Regions from separate parts of the Homo sapiens genome. Here region 1 is linked to region 2. The links come from fine-mapping of genetic effects on gene expression. A gene starts in region 2. The other region holds a variant in brackets. All regions are shown on one strand. Distances are between the middles of the regions. Region 1 holds the start of PCDH12 (protocadherin 12). Region 2 holds the start of DELE1 (DAP3 binding cell death enhancer 1).

What was found.
Region 1: its variant is fine-mapped to the expression of DELE1 in tibial artery (GTEx, PIP above 0.99).

Annotation. Positions count from the first base shown.
Region 1 is chr5:141,953,839-141,962,166 of GRCh38, reverse strand. PCDH12 (protocadherin 12) reads left to right here and starts at 3,965. Exons shown (of 4, transcript NM_016580.4): 1 at 3,965-7,195. The coding sequence starts at 4,316. It also overlaps a transcript of RNF14 not described here. RefSeq lists enhancers at 3,293-4,198, 4,199-5,105. The variant T/C (reference allele first, on the strand shown) is at 4,507.
Region 2 is chr5:141,920,528-141,928,855 of GRCh38, reverse strand. DELE1 (DAP3 binding cell death enhancer 1) reads right to left here and starts at 4,985. Exons shown (of 12, transcript NM_014773.5): 1 at 4,884-4,985; 2 at 4,161-4,275; 3 at 3,329-3,446; 4 at 558-705. The coding sequence starts at 4,914. RefSeq lists an enhancer at 4,591-5,104.

The DNA of each region.
Region 1 (8,328 bases), 33 kb before region 2:
TGCCCTGCTAGGAGCAGATAACCCAGAACATCTACCTGAGTCTCCCAGTCAAGATTCCTGGTCTGACTAGGAATCTAACTTCAACAAGATCTTCCTGAAAAAAGACGCTGAGCTTGGACGGTCCAACCACCTCCCTACCTGGGATAAGCCGGAGGATGCTTCTTGGCTTCCCCAAAGCTGTCTTGGTGGTGATGCTGTGGCAACCACAGGGGAGATTCACGAGGAGAAAGCCTGGAAGACCAGAGCCCTGGAAGTGGGGCAGCCAGCCCAGCGGGACATTCGTAGGGGCGAGGTGTGATCTCAGCCTTCATTCAGCTGGCCTGGGAGTCCTCCAAGGGTCAGAGTCACACCTTACTAGTCTGACCCCTCAAGGTTCCTTAGGACTCCAGGTGTTTTAAGAAGATTCTCTGAACCCCCACCCTTCCCACTTCACCCCTCAGCCCTCCCTGTGGTTAAGAACCCAAGTGTGAACAACCCCAAGTTTGGTGGTTAGTGAGGCCTTCAAGCACAAACCCTAATCCTGCCCTTTTAAAAAAAATATTTTGGACTTAAGGGAGGCTGTCCTCAATTGTTTCAAACCTATTTCAGAGTACCTCCACTCCTTCAAACCTATTTTCAAAACTCAGGAAAACGTCGCCTTTCCAGACGAACTCTAGTGACAGCTCCATTCACCCCTTGGCATTTGACTGCTAAAGATCAGCTGACCCCTGCAGCCAGAAGGAGGAGAGAAAATTGCTAAATGGGGACCTCATTTCCAGAGGTGATCACCTTAAAAAAGTCTGGGGCCTTGTTTGCCAGCTTTGAAATCTCAAAGGGTAATCTTAGCTTCATGTCCCCAGTGTGAATAAAACAAACAATAAAAACCACCTATGAAATCTAAATTCAAACTTTCTTGCGACCTATGCATCATTTTTTTGCATTCACATTCCCAGTCAAAACACAGACACACACACACACACACCCAACAGATATATAACTGCATGTAAAATATATATAGATAAAACAATGTCCTCTGAAGAATATAAATGTTAACACAAGTAAAATTATCATGAATTCCATAACTCCTTCTGTGGCCTTGGTCCACGTTAGGTTTTCCATTAAGAGATACTATTGTCATCAGTGAGTAGCTTCTCCTGTTGTATTCTTCTGTGTAGCACGGGGCTGGAGCTGTGGATATTTATGAACCCCAGGCACCCACTTCCTGTTTTCGTGGCTGTCCCCGGTCCCTGCCTCTGTGCCGTTTTCTCTGCCTTTGGCCACCAGATGGCGCTCTGGAAACGAGTTTTCTGCATCAAAGCTCCCCTGCATTACTCTCAACTAGGCTCCCTCCCTCTTCTCTGTTCCCTTCCAAGCCATTTTCCAGGGTGCAGCCAAAAGGCCTTTCTGGAGGGCACATCTGTGTGATCTTGGGCAAGTTACCTAACGCTGTGTGCTCAGCATCTTCAATGTGATGGTATGGCTGTGAGTGCGTCATGAGAGGATGTAGGTAAAGCACTTAGGACAAGGCCTGGCATGTGGTCGCTGTTCTCATTATCCTGCGTAGAGCTTTTCAAAAGCACTCCACGACCTTCAGGACAAGGTCTAAATTCTTAGCCATGGGAACCCAGGCCACTGCATCATCTGAGGACCCCTGCTTATGTCCCCTGCCCAACCTTCCTCCCTACACTACTGCACTGACCCTCTTGCAGCACAGCCAGGAGCCAGCCTGCCCACTTCGGGGCCTTTGCCCATTTTGCCCCTGCCACCAGCTTTGCCTGTCTCCTGCCTATTCAACTTCCTCGGGCTCACTCCTCCAGGTCCGTCAGGATTCAGCGTGTGCCCTCCATGAGGAGCCTCCCGGACCCCCAGGCCTGATTCCAGAGCCATTCTACTGGCCTCTCGCCTTTCATTTTCCCTGCCCCCACCTGCGACTGTCAGCCCCTTGCCTTGTTCACTGTCAGGCACACAGGGGGACGATTGCGGGGCGGATAGTGAGACTGTCACGTGGGCTGCCAGCAGGGGGCAATGGGCACCCTTGTGTCCCTGAGCTCCCAGGGGCTCCTAGTAGCTTAGGCAGCACCTTGCCCACACCAAGCTGAGGGAGACCTGAGAAATGGGATTCCTGCCAAAGAGGCAAAGAAAAAAGTGAAGGGACAAATGCAAGGCCATCTTTGCCATTTGCGTATGAGGCATAAAACTTGGAAGATAATAAACAGCAAAATCATAGTCCTTATGTGCTGAGTGCTTTCTCTGAGCCAGGCCCTGTGCTGAGTCCTTACCCCACCTTGTGAGATCGATGACAGCCCTCAGAGAAGGAAACAGAGGCTAGGAGAGGTTAAGTCCCTTGTGCAGTGTCTCAGAGCTTGTGAGTGGCCTGTCTGTCTCCAGGGCCATGCTGTAGGAGGTGGCCCTGGATTCAGGCCCCTTGCTATGGTTTAATGGGTTTCAGTGAAATAGTTGGGAAACCTCAGGAGTGGGATATGGAGTTAAGGGAAAGAAAAGCCAGAGAGAAAGGGAAGGAGTGCAGGTGACTGTCCCTTAGCCACCCCAGTCCTGATGACCACAGGCCTCCATGCCAATAAGCCCTGACTAGTGCCACTTGGGTCCAAACATGGCATCTCTGGCCCCAAGGGCTTAGTAGCAAACACCCATCTAGGGAAGCTGGCGTTCATTCTCATCACCTCAAATGCTTCATGAGCCTCAGGGATCAACCTTGAAGTGGGTATAAGGCTGGGAGAATGTTGGGGGCAGCAAACTGAAGGGCACAATAAGAAGCAATAAGGCCACCTCAAAGCCCACCCAAGCAAACTGCTCATTCACCTCCTTCCTTCCTGAATTTCACCTTATGAGGAGGTGAGTGGAAGATAGGGTATCCCTTAAAACATCTAAAAGGAGAGTTGGGGGCAGCAAAGGAGATGTGCTTCACGGGACTCTTATAAACAAAACTGGGGAGAGAAGAATTGGAGGAAGGGGGAAAGACATAGATGAAAGGGAGGGGAAGGTGTGGGAGAGGGAAACGTATAAAAGCTTCCAAGAGGAGTGGGAGGCTGGGGGTTCCCCAGACAGAGACTCAGTCTGGACCAGATGCAGAGAACAATGGACTTCAAGGCTGGAGGGGGGCAGAAGGGAAGCGGGAGGAGAGCCACACGGTCAAGTTGCACAGGTTCTTGCAGCTTCTGGAATCAAGACCATGGGCACCCTCATAAGTCAGTGTGGGCAGGGACTGCCCCAGGGCCAATCCAAGATCCAGAGGTAGCCATAGGGTGTGACAAGTTGTGCAGATTACAACACTCACCCCTTGCAATAACGTCACTGCCTGTGACTCGGGGCCAGGCCCAGGCCAAAGCCCTTCCTACATCATTTCGTTTAATCCTCACAGTTTCCTGCTGAAAGGGCTACTATTCTTACTCCCATCCCCACTCTACAGATGAGGTAATGGAGGCCCAGGAAAGTTAAGTGACTTGTCCCAGATGACACCGCTGGTAAGTTGCAAAGTCAGAATTTGAACTCAGGCAGTTTACCTCTGATGGCTGCTCTGTTAATCACAGCTGCTTTCCAGTGAGACAAAAACGGGTGATCAGGGCAGAGTCAAGACAGAGAGGTAAACAAGATTGGGAAAAAGACAGGAATGAGAGGGGAACAATGGGGGAAAAGATAGGAACAAAGAGAGTTGGGGAAGGGGAGAGAAACAGGAAACATGACTTGCCCGGGAGGGGCATCAGTCCACGTGCAAGCAGGTGGAGGCTCAAGTTTTCTGCTCACTTGGTGATGCAGAGGCTCCCTTTCCCTCAGCAGCCGCCTTGCTGCGTGGACAGCAGCTTCCCATCTGGCCTGTCCCCGGAGCCCCGGCCTCATCCTCCTCAGCGGCAGGCCACTTAGCTTCACAGGAAATGCTCTTTCTCTAATTGGCATTGAAACTCACAGCCCTCCCTTTTCCTGTAGGTGGGGTTTCCATAGGAAAAAGCTGCTTCTCTGTTTCCCCAGCCTAGCAACTGTTTGGCAGTCAGAGTCCCACATCCTGCTCAACTGGGTCAGGTCCCTCTTAGACCAGCTCTTGTCCATCATTTGCTGAAGTGGACCAACTAGTTCCCCAGTAGGGGGTCTCCCCTGGCAATTCTTGATCGGCGTTTGGACATCTCAGATCGCTTCCAATGAAGATGGCCTTGCCTTGGGGTCCTGCTTGTTTCATAATCATCTAACTATGGGACAAGGTTGTGCCGGCAGCTCTGGGGGAAGGAGCACGGGGCTGATCAAGCCATCCAGGAAACACTGGAGGACTTGTCCAGCCTTGAAAGAACTCTAGTGGTTTCTGAATCTAGCCCACTTGGCGGTAAGCATGATGCAACTTCTGCAACTTCTGCTGGGGCTTTTGGGGCCAGGTGGCTACTTATTTCTTTTAGGGGATTGTCAGGAGGTGACCACTCTCACGGTGAAATACCAAGTGTCAGAGGAAGTGCCATCTGGTACAGTGATCGGGAAGCTGTCCCAGGAACTGGGCCGGGAGGAGAGGCGGAGGCAAGCTGGGGC[T/C]GCCTTCCAGGTGTTGCAGCTGCCTCAGGCGCTCCCCATTCAGGTGGACTCTGAGGAAGGCTTGCTCAGCACAGGCAGGCGGCTGGATCGAGAGCAGCTGTGCCGACAGTGGGATCCCTGCCTGGTTTCCTTTGATGTGCTTGCCACAGGGGATTTGGCTCTGATCCATGTGGAGATCCAAGTGCTGGACATCAATGACCACCAGCCACGGTTTCCCAAAGGCGAGCAGGAGCTGGAAATCTCTGAGAGCGCCTCTCTGCGAACCCGGATCCCCCTGGACAGAGCTCTTGACCCAGACACAGGCCCTAACACCCTGCACACCTACACTCTGTCTCCCAGTGAGCACTTTGCCTTGGATGTCATTGTGGGCCCTGATGAGACCAAACATGCAGAACTCATAGTGGTGAAGGAGCTGGACAGGGAAATCCATTCATTTTTTGATCTGGTGTTAACTGCCTATGACAATGGGAACCCCCCCAAGTCAGGTACCAGCTTGGTCAAGGTCAACGTCTTGGACTCCAATGACAATAGCCCTGCGTTTGCTGAGAGTTCACTGGCACTGGAAATCCAAGAAGATGCTGCACCTGGTACGCTTCTCATAAAACTGACCGCCACAGACCCTGACCAAGGCCCCAATGGGGAGGTGGAGTTCTTCCTCAGTAAGCACATGCCTCCAGAGGTGCTGGACACCTTCAGTATTGATGCCAAGACAGGCCAGGTCATTCTGCGTCGACCTCTAGACTATGAAAAGAACCCTGCCTACGAGGTGGATGTTCAGGCAAGGGACCTGGGTCCCAATCCTATCCCAGCCCATTGCAAAGTTCTCATCAAGGTTCTGGATGTCAATGACAACATCCCAAGCATCCACGTCACATGGGCCTCCCAGCCATCACTGGTGTCAGAAGCTCTTCCCAAGGACAGTTTTATTGCTCTTGTCATGGCAGATGACTTGGATTCAGGACACAATGGTTTGGTCCACTGCTGGCTGAGCCAAGAGCTGGGCCACTTCAGGCTGAAAAGAACTAATGGCAACACATACATGTTGCTAACCAATGCCACACTGGACAGAGAGCAGTGGCCCAAATATACCCTCACTCTGTTAGCCCAAGACCAAGGACTCCAGCCCTTATCAGCCAAGAAACAGCTCAGCATTCAGATCAGTGACATCAACGACAATGCACCTGTGTTTGAGAAAAGCAGGTATGAAGTCTCCACGCGGGAAAACAACTTACCCTCTCTTCACCTCATTACCATCAAGGCTCATGATGCAGACTTGGGCATTAATGGAAAAGTCTCATACCGCATCCAGGACTCCCCAGTTGCTCACTTAGTAGCTATTGACTCCAACACAGGAGAGGTCACTGCTCAGAGGTCACTGAACTATGAAGAGATGGCCGGCTTTGAGTTCCAGGTGATCGCAGAGGACAGCGGGCAACCCATGCTTGCATCCAGTGTCTCTGTGTGGGTCAGCCTCTTGGATGCCAATGATAATGCCCCAGAGGTGGTCCAGCCTGTGCTCAGCGATGGAAAAGCCAGCCTCTCCGTGCTTGTGAATGCCTCCACAGGCCACCTGCTGGTGCCCATCGAGACTCCCAATGGCTTGGGCCCAGCGGGCACTGACACACCTCCACTGGCCACTCACAGCTCCCGGCCATTCCTTTTGACAACCATTGTGGCAAGAGATGCAGACTCGGGGGCAAATGGAGAGCCCCTCTACAGCATCCGCAGTGGAAATGAAGCCCACCTCTTCATCCTCAACCCTCATACGGGGCAGCTGTTCGTCAATGTCACCAATGCCAGCAGCCTCATTGGGAGTGAGTGGGAGCTGGAGATAGTAGTAGAGGACCAGGGAAGCCCCCCCTTACAGACCCGAGCCCTGTTGAGGGTCATGTTTGTCACCAGTGTGGACCACCTGAGGGACTCAGCCCGCAAGCCTGGGGCCTTGAGCATGTCGATGCTGACGGTGATCTGCCTGGCTGTACTGTTGGGCATCTTCGGGTTGATCCTGGCTTTGTTCATGTCCATCTGCCGGACAGAAAAGAAGGACAACAGGGCCTACAACTGTCGGGAGGCCGAGTCCACCTACCGCCAGCAGCCCAAGAGGCCCCAGAAACACATTCAGAAGGCAGACATCCACCTCGTGCCTGTGCTCAGGGGTCAGGCAGGTGAGCCTTGTGAAGTCGGGCAGTCCCACAAAGATGTGGACAAGGAGGCGATGATGGAAGCAGGCTGGGACCCCTGCCTGCAGGCCCCCTTCCACCTCACCCCGACCCTGTACAGGACGCTGCGTAATCAAGGCAACCAGGGAGCACCGGCGGAGAGCCGAGAGGTGCTGCAAGACACGGTCAACCTCCTTTTCAACCATCCCAGGCAGAGGAATGCCTCCCGGGAGAACCTGAACCTTCCCGAGCCCCAGCCTGCCACAGGCCAGCCACGTTCCAGGCCTCTGAAGGTTGCAGGCAGCCCCACAGGGAGGCTGGCTGGAGACCAGGGCAGTGAGGAAGCCCCACAGAGGCCACCAGCCTCCTCTGCAACCCTGAGACGGCAGCGACATCTCAATGGCAAAGTGTCCCCTGAGAAAGAATCAGGGCCCCGTCAGATCCTGCGGAGCCTGGTCCGGCTGTCTGTGGCTGCCTTCGCCGAGCGGAACCCCGTGGAGGAGCTCACTGTGGATTCTCCTCCTGTTCAGGTACCTGGGGCATGGGCAGCTCTTTCTCTGGTCACTCCTGGACCACCAGAAACAGAATCAGACACCCCCATAACCTGCACAGTCCTCATGTTTCTTCCTTAGGCTCACCTGGCACTTTCTGATGCTTTGGGTAGCAATGGTTCAGGGCACAGCTTTGTGATCGGCTGAACTTAGCTGTGTGATCCTAGGCAAATTCCTTACTGTCTCTGGGCCTTAGTTGTCTTATCTGTAAATTAGAGATGATAGTAAGAGTATCTACCTTGTAGAGTTGTCCAGAGGATTTGATCAATTAATTCCTATAAGGCATTTATGGTGCCTCACAAGTAGACACACAGCAAAGGTAGTGATTAAGAGTATAAGCTTTGGGCAAGGTTACCTGGGTTCAAATCCTGGCTCCACTTCTTCCTAGCTCTGAACCACAGAGGAAGTTAACATCTCTGTTGAAGATGTCTATGTTAACACCACCCATCTTCTAAGTTTGCTTGAAAATAAAATGAGTGAATGCTCTTAATGCCTGTAGAACAGTGTCCATCTGACATGTAGTCAGTACTCAGCAAATTATTACTATTACTTCCTCAAAGCACTTCTCCATCTCCACTATTTGCCTGCCTTCATCTCATCTGGGCAACTTCCCTATGAAGAAGGCCAGCATAGGCATCATTGCACCCAAACCCAGGTGTTGCAAATAATTTGTCTGAGACCCCAGAGCTTTCCGGCTGGGCCTGCGGATGGGGCAGTGGAAATTACCTTAGAACTTAGCAGTTAGGCAGATTGGAGTTCAGATTTCAACACAGCCACTTAGGAGCTGGGCAACCTTGTACACGTCCTTCAACATCTGAGCCTCATTTTCCTCATCTATAAAATGGGGATTATGAGACCAAACTTACCCTGTGTCTGCCTCCTTAGAGTGTGAGGGCTAAATGGGATGATGAGTGTCAAAATGTCTAAGGACCTGGGATTTTCTAGACACAAGTGGGGAAACCTTTCCAGGGATGATGCCTGATCTCACACCCATATCTGCTTCTGTGAACCTCAGATATTTTCACTGTGCCAGGCTGCCCGCCCAAGGCACACTTCTGTTTGGCCAGGCTATCAGCTCAGGTTTCCTGTGAAGCAAAACACAGTTTCCTTCC
Region 2 (8,328 bases):
TAACTCATTTAGTCCTCCCAAGAAACCTATGGGGTGGGTTTTATTATTACCCCAATTTATAGATAAAGAAACCGAGGCAGAAGGAAGTTAAAAGTGACTTGTTCAGGGACATAAGACTAGTATGCAGCAATTTTGGGACTTGAACCTCTATAATCTGACTCCAGAGCCTCAACCACTAGGCTATGTTGCTTCTGCACCATGGCACATAATAGGTGCTCAATAAAGATTCATTTATTTATGAATGACTGAGTGACTGACCAGAGAATAATTTAACTGGTTGAATGTGGGCCAGGAAGCCACACCCAGAATCTAAAGTAGTCTGGACCCTGTGGGCCTCCCTTGGTTGGAGGTGATGGGAGGAAATGGAAAGACACTGAGGGGCAGGTGTGGCCCATGCCCTGGGTGGATAGAACTTCCCCACATTCCTCTTCCTCTGACTTCAGATAGGAAAGGCAAGGAGCTGCTGATGGCTCTTTTCCTGAGGTGTGTCCAGAGACGCTTCCTGGCCCAGAGAAACGCCCAGCCCAGCCCTCCTGTCCCCAGGACTGAGAACTCACAGGAGCATGGGTGCCACAAGGGAGATGAGAAGAAACGGTCCAGGGGACTGTGCCAGGAGCAGTGTTCTACCCGCTGAGGTCCTGCTGGCAGGGATGCCTGGAAGTGGATCTGCCTTGCCAGCTGCAGGGCCAGCACGGCCAGAGTGCCCTGGGAAAGACAGCACGTTAAGGACACGGTCCTTCACCAATCAACTCCATCAGACCCGGCCTTATTCTCAAACATCACTTCCTCAGGAAATCCAGGTGGGGCAGCTCCCCGACTACAAACTTTCACAACACCCTAACTTCTCTGGAGCCCTGACCACACTGGCATTTAAACAATCATCTCTACATTTATTTATCTAAGGTCTGTCTCTCCTGTTAGTCTATAAGCACGACATGGGCAGGGACCATGTGTGTTTTACTCACCAATGTATCTCTGGTGCCCAAGTACAGCACAGTGCTAATATATAGTAGGGACCTAATAAGTACAACCTGAATAAATGCTTGATCAAGTGACTAAATAAGCGAAGACTAAGCAGGCAAAAAGATAATGGGGTAGGTTGGCACCTAGTTGCAAATATAGCAACAGGTCAGAGTTCCCCATTAGGCTCTCTTTCCAGTCTTGCACAACCCCTCCTTCCACCAACTCCCATTCCCCCAGTGAAGCCACCCCAGCACACACACATCTCCAGGTGTAAGCTTTGTAAAGGTGTTTCTTCTCTGACAGGTCTGCAGAAGACCTGAGCTAGCTCTTATCCCAGAGACTCCTTGGTTTTCCCTGTCTCCTGTCTCTCCTTATGTTATGCTTAAGAAGGTTGACCCAGGGTCGGGTGCAGTGGCTCATGCCTGTAATCCCAGCACTTGGGAGGCTGAGGCAGGTGGATCACTTGAGGCCAGGAGTTGAAGACCAGCCAACATGGAGAAACTCTGTTCCACTAAAAATACAAGAATTAGCCAGGCGTGGTGGGGCACACCTGTAATCCCAACTACTCGGAGGTTGAGGCATGAAAATTGCTTGAACCTGGGAGGCAGAGGTTGCAGTGAGCCAGGATCGCACCACTGCGCTCCAGCCTAAAAAAAACACACAGGTTGACCCAGATACTTACTTGTTGCTCCAGGCACTGCATACAATAGCAAGTAAGACAGACATAATTTCTGCCCTCATGAAGTTTATATCTTGTGTTTAGAAAGACAAAACACAACTACAGAGAGAAATAGAGTAATTACTAGTGATGTTAAATGCCAAGAAGGAAACTAATCAGAGAGTTACACAGAGCATAAAAGGGGTCCTGACAAGACAAGGAGTCAGGGAAAGCCTGTCTGTGGGGGTGACGTGTGGGCTAAGGCCAGAAGAAAAGGCACCAGCATTGTGAAGAACAGAGACAAGTATCCATGGTACTGAGGACAGCTTGCGTGCAGACCCTTTCATATGAGCAGTAGTGACAGAGCACAGGGATGGCATTGGGACTTCTGGAATCCAGGCCCACTTCCTACTTCTCACTATGGGACAGCCCTAGGGCTCAGATCTTCTTTGGCAACATGGGAAAATGCTCCTCTCTTCAGGGTATGATATGGCCTTAGTCCACAGCTCCCCATAGAGGGGTAACCCTGTCATGGAGACATCCCAGGCTCAGCTCTGCTGATGACACCAATTTACAGATGAGAAAGCCAAGGGTCACACAGGTCAAGTCATTTGTCCAAAGTACACAGCACGAAAGCAGCAGGGATGAGCTGTGACAAACATGAGAGTGATGTGTGTGTCAACTTCATTCAGAAGATCTTATAAGCAGAACTTCCACCTGGAACATTGCCTGAAAAGCGAAGACTCTGCCCTATGAGACCTAGTGTTCACTAGTAAGAATCTGACCTTATAGATCAGGTTCAACAAATATTTTTGAGCAACTATTACGGGCTAGGCTCTGTATTTGATGCAGCAACCAAGCAGTAGAACATGAACTCCAGAGTTAAATCTGGCTCCTCCACTTAACAGGTATGAGACCCTACGCATGTTACCTAATATTTCAGAGCCTGAGATTCCTCAGCTGTAAAATGAAGGTGATATTTCCCTTGTAAGATTTTTGTAAGGATTACACAAGATAATGCATGTATAATACTTTACATTAATAAATAATGCTATAAGGCCGGGCGCGGTGGCTCACAGCTGTAATCCCAGCACTTTGGGAGGCCGCGGTGGGTGGGTCACGAGATCAGGAGTTCGAGACCATCCTGGCCAAAATGGTGAAACCCCGTCTCTACTAAAAACACAAAAATTATCCAGGCGTGGTGGCACGTGCCTGTAATCCCAGCTACTTGGGAGGCTGAAGCAGGAGAATTGCTTGAACCCGGGAGACGGAGGTTGCAGTGAGCCAAGATCATGCCGCTGCACTTCAGCCTGGGCGACAGAGAAAGACTCTGTCTCAGAAAAAAATAATAATTTAAAAATAAAAAAAATGAATAATAAAAAAAAGATGCAATGTATTATTATTTATTGTAAGATCCATGAAGGCAAGAATGTATCTATCTTGTTCTCTGCTATGTCCGTAGTGACTAGCAAAAATGCCTGGCCCAGACAAGGTGTTACATAAATGTTTACTGAATTAAATGAGGAAAACATACATGGCGGGGGTGTGGAAAGTGGCAATATCTCCTTGAATATGCTCCAATACCATGGGTTACTTGTTAAATGGACACAGTGATTCCCTAGCCCTTGTTCCAGGTTCGGCTGTATACCCATGAAGGATCATTCTCATCTACACTGAAGGTCAAGGACCAGGCTGGGGAAGCCTTACCCAAGATATGGCATCCCATAGGGTGTTCGGGGAGACACGGGAAGACATCCATTGGAAGGCATCCTTCCATCCATGGGACCTTGGACCCCCGCTCGTGCCTGGGCCATGGGGACCTGACCTAGATGATGAAATAAGAGGCTATCAAGTAGGGGCAAAGGGAGACCAGGGACTGGGTGCGGTGGCTCACACCTGTAATCCCAACAATTTGGGAGGCTGAGGTGGGTGGATCACGAGGTCAGGAGTTCAAGACCAGCCTGGTCAAGATGGTGAAACCCCATCTCTACTAAAAATATAAAAATTGGCTGGGTACAGTGGCTCACACTGTAATCCCAGCACTTTGGGAGGCTGAGGCGGGCAGATCATGAGATCAGGAGATCAAGACCATCCTGGCTAACATGGTGAAACCCCGTCTCTACTAAAAATACAAAAAAAATTAGCCAGGCGTGATGGTGCATGCCTGAAATCCCAGCTACTTGGGAGGCTGAGGCAGCAGAATCGCTTGAACCCAGGAGGCGGAGGTTTCAGTGAGCCAAGATCGCGCCACTGCACTCCAGCCTGGGCGACAGAGCGAGACTCTGTCTCAAAAAAAATAAAATAAAATAAAAATTAGCAGGGTGTGGTGACGGGTGCCTGTAATCCCAGCTACTCGGGAGGCTGAGGCAGAGAACTGCTTGAACCTGGGAGGCGGAGGTTGCAGTGAGCTGAGATTGCCCCACTGCACTCCAGCCTGGGCGACAGAATGAGACTCCATCTCAAAAAACAACAAAAAAAAAAAAATAAAAAAAAAGGGTGACTAGGGGAGGAAATGAGTGGTAAAATGGCAGTATCTTACCTGTCGAGGTTAGGCACAGGAACCAGCAAAGTGGAGGAGGTAGTCTGAGGCCCATCTGGGCTGGTGGACTTAGGAGTCACCCTCCAGAGGCTAGGTCCCAGTGTACGGGGAAGAGCTGTACAGAACAACCAAAACTCAGGCACCTCAACAAGAACCCAGGAATCACTGTCATCTGCCTCAGCAGAGGTTCTTAAACATGGATACACATGGGAATCTTTTATCTACTACAGATTCTAGGGTAGTACCCCAGAACCAATAAACTAAGATTTCTCAGGGTAGAGCATCCACGTTTTTTAAAAGCGCCCATGTGATTCTGCTGGTCTCCTGTGGATGCCAACCACTGTTCTAAGATGACCAAACGTTCATACATATACTCTCACTAATGTTTGGGGCTCTTTGACTCTAAACCTCTCCTCTCTTCACTGGCTATGCCTACTCCATTGGCCCCTAATCCTCTTTCATTCATTCAGTCCACCATCTCCTGCCATTGGACTCCTCCCCCTCCCAACAGTCCTACCAACTTCTTGGACTCCACCCTCTTCTAGCTAGGCCCATCCACATCTCAAATTCCAGCAGCCCCTGACTTCCCCGCCCTCTTTCAAGCCCCGCCTTCCTTGGCTCTAACCCGGCCCACGATCGCTTCGGCTGTTTCCTCGGGCCCGCCCCCACTCCAGTTCGGTCTTTGCGGCCCAGAGTGACGCTGGTTGCTTGGACGTCCCTTACCTCGGCCCAGGAGTCCCGGGAGGCGCCACATGTCGCTGCCAGCACCACAGAGAGCTCGCAGCCGAAAGCGCGAGACCAACCCTTGGGACAGCGGCTAGAAAGGCCGCCGCGATGCCCCGAGTGGCCGAGTACCCGAGGAAGCTCTGAGCTGGCCAATTAGAAGGGAGCCCGGCCGGAAAGACGGCGCTGCAGAGAGGAAGTGCAGGGCGGAGGCGTATTCGGGGCCAGCGGGGCGGTGACGTGCGGCAAGGGCATGGGGATGTGGGCCCAGGCTTCCGTGGGGGATGTCCTTGGCGTTCCCAAGCCGAGGCAGGGGACCGCAGGTGGCGAAGCGAGCCACCCGGAAGCGGGACCTTCGGGAAGTGGGGCTGGAGCGGCTTCAGGGAAGTAAGAGGACCTTGCAGACCGTGAGGCCGCGAACCAGGAAAGGCTTCTCCAGGCCCTAGGCTTGAGGAAGTGGGAGTAACCAGGCTCCATGGGCGGAGGAGAGGACCCCCGGGGTCCCACAAATGAAGCCAGTAGGCCGGGCTTCCGTCCAAGGCCACCTGCCTGGAGATGCCAGGCCAGGGCCCGACTGCGTAGGCGATGAGAAACCGCACAGGGCAAGGCTTTGATTCTGGGTTCTAGCTCCGGTCCAGCTTTATCTCACTGTGCAGCTTCATGCCAACCCCTTACCTTGTCGGGGCCCCAATACGCGCCAGATAGGGTCAAATGGAATGACTGGCCTGACAAGCTGAGATTCTTGGGTAGCTCCTTTCAAAATACCTGAGACACCACCCGCGCCCTATTAGAACCCTCGTCTTCAGACGTGGCAAAAGTTATGTATGTGTTTGTTCTTTTGTGGAAAAGAATAGTTCCGTCTGGTCCCGGTGGCTCACGCCTGTAATCCCAGCACTCTGGGAGGCCGAGGCGGGCGGATCACCTGAGGTCAGGAGTTTGAGACCAGCCTGGCCAACATGGTGAAACCCTGTCTCTACTAAAAATACAAAAATCAGTTGCGCGTGGTGGTGGGCGCCTGTAATCCTAGCTACTCTGGAGGCTGAGGCAGGAGAATTGCTTGAACACGGGAGACGGGAGGTTGCAGTGAGCCGAGATCGCGCCTGGGCGACAGAGTGAGACTCCATCTCAAAAAAAAAAGGAAAAAAAAATAGTTCCTTTCACCACATTTGAATCCGTGAAATAACGGAGCTTACATTCAAGTATAAGATGTTTAGATTTCCTCCCTATCCCCTTCCTCCAGGTATGTGACTTTAAGGTGAGTGGAAGTTGCTACCTGGGGTAAAAGTGTACTGGGGGCACCTACTTTTAGACCGAGGCATGTGGCTTGAAAGTTGTATTAATATGTTAGACAACTTTTTTTTTTCTTTTGAGACGGATTCTCTGTCGCCCAGGCTGGAGTGCAATGGTGTGATCTCGGCTCACTGCAACCTCTGCCTCCCAGGTTCAAGCGATTCTCTTGCCTCAGCCTCCCAAGTAGCTGAGATTACAGGCGCCTGCTACCACATCCTGCTAATTTTTGTATTTTTAGTAGAGACAGGGTTTCACCATGTTGGCCAGGTTGGTCTCGAACTCCTGGACCTCAGGTGATCCTCCTGCCTTGGCCTTCCAAAGTGCTGGGATTACAGGCTTGAGCCACCGTGCCTGGCCGTTAAAGAACTTTTGAGCCATATATCAGCCCGTTCTAGGATCTGAGAAGACAGCTGAGGAAAGAGCATTTGTGGCCTCCAGGAACACGGTCCAGTGGATTAGTAGTGGGCTTTGGAGTCCCACAAATCTGGGTTGGAATCACAGCTTGCTTACTTCGTAGGTATGTTATCTTGTGCAGGTTCCTTAACCACACTAAGTCTCAAGAGCTTCATCCGTAAAATAGGGAAAATACCTCATGCAATTGTTGTGAGGTTTAAATAAAATAATATGTTAAAAATGTTTAACTTGGTGTTTTGGGAATACCCTTCAAAAAATAAAAAATAAATAAATAAAAATGTTTAGCATAGTTCCTGGCACATAGTAAAAGCCCAGTAAGTGTAAGTTGCTATTAATTATATTAGTAGGGGAGGTAAGCAGGCAAGTGTAATAGGTTAGGTTCCCATAGAAGCATGAACAATGGATTGTGGGATCCCTTGGAAGGCTTCAGAAAAGTAGTTGCATTTGAGCGGGGCCTTTAAATGTGAATAAGAGCTTGCCAGGTGGAGAAGGAAGAAAGGCATTGCAAGCGGAGGAAACAATAAATAAAGGCCCAGAAGTTTGAATGTTGGACAACTATTCAGAAATAGCCTTGCTTCGGGATTTGGGACGGCAACCTTTCACATTCCTTGTGTTGCTGTCCCGAAAATAAAGTAACAAACAAGTATGCTGGTTTGGCTGTGTTCTTCCTCCTGCGTCTTTTGTACCCTCCTTCCTTTCAGACTATCCATAGTTTGTGTCATTTCTCAAGGTTCAGCCCAATCCCAGCTCTTCAGTGTAGACTCCTCAACTGTTTGAGCCCTCCCTGCTCCCTACTTTTCCCAATTCCTATAGCACTTAATTTCTTACTACACAGTTTAGCAGTAATTATATGCTGTCTTGGTATTTATCTCATTTGTGTAACTCTAGCCTTCCCAGTTCTCTCCTTTCAGGACAGGAATAGCATTTCCCTATTCCGTGTCCCACATAGGGCTTGACATAAATTGTCAGCCCAAAGAATATGTCCAAACAATCCCTGTTGACAGAACATCTTGTACTAATGATTATTACAGCCAAGGGTACCAGACCCCAGCCAGGGGATTTACTGATTTGAGTGGAAATGTATTCATTGCAGATACAAACATTCATTGAGGGCCCTCCCTGTTTGAAGCTAGTTGAAAAGTTTTGAAGGAGAGACTAGGACATCTGCCCCCATGTATAGAATGGCATTATGGCATCTCTTGTCCCCATAAACAGAAACATCAGACCACTTGTGTGAGGGTAGATGGCGAGGGTGGCTGGAGCCCACAGCAGATCACCTGTTGAGTGCAGCTCACGGGAGTGCTGTTGGTTGAATGGCAGCTGCCTCAACTGCCAGACCCCAAACTCTGTGGTTTTGGATTGTGGCTCAGTCCCTCTACACAGTCCCTCAAGTTGACTCAATCCTCCACAAAGGTAAACTGACACTGGGAACCTATTGCCTGCTGTCCAGTTAATCACCTTTCATGATGACTACACATGCCATTGTGTACTTTGTGTACTGTCACTACAGTGAGTATTCTAGATACTTGTTGCCTTCATTTTTGTAGGCATTCTTAATTTGCATTAATCAAATATATGACAGCTTATTTAGTGCTAAAGGATATGCTAAGTATATAACAATTTTAAAACATGGATGTGGGCAGGGCGCAGTGCCTCACGCCTGTAATCCCAGCTCTTTGGGAGGCCGAGGTGGGTGGTTCACGAGGCCAGGAGTTCAAGACCAGCCTGGCCAACATGGTGA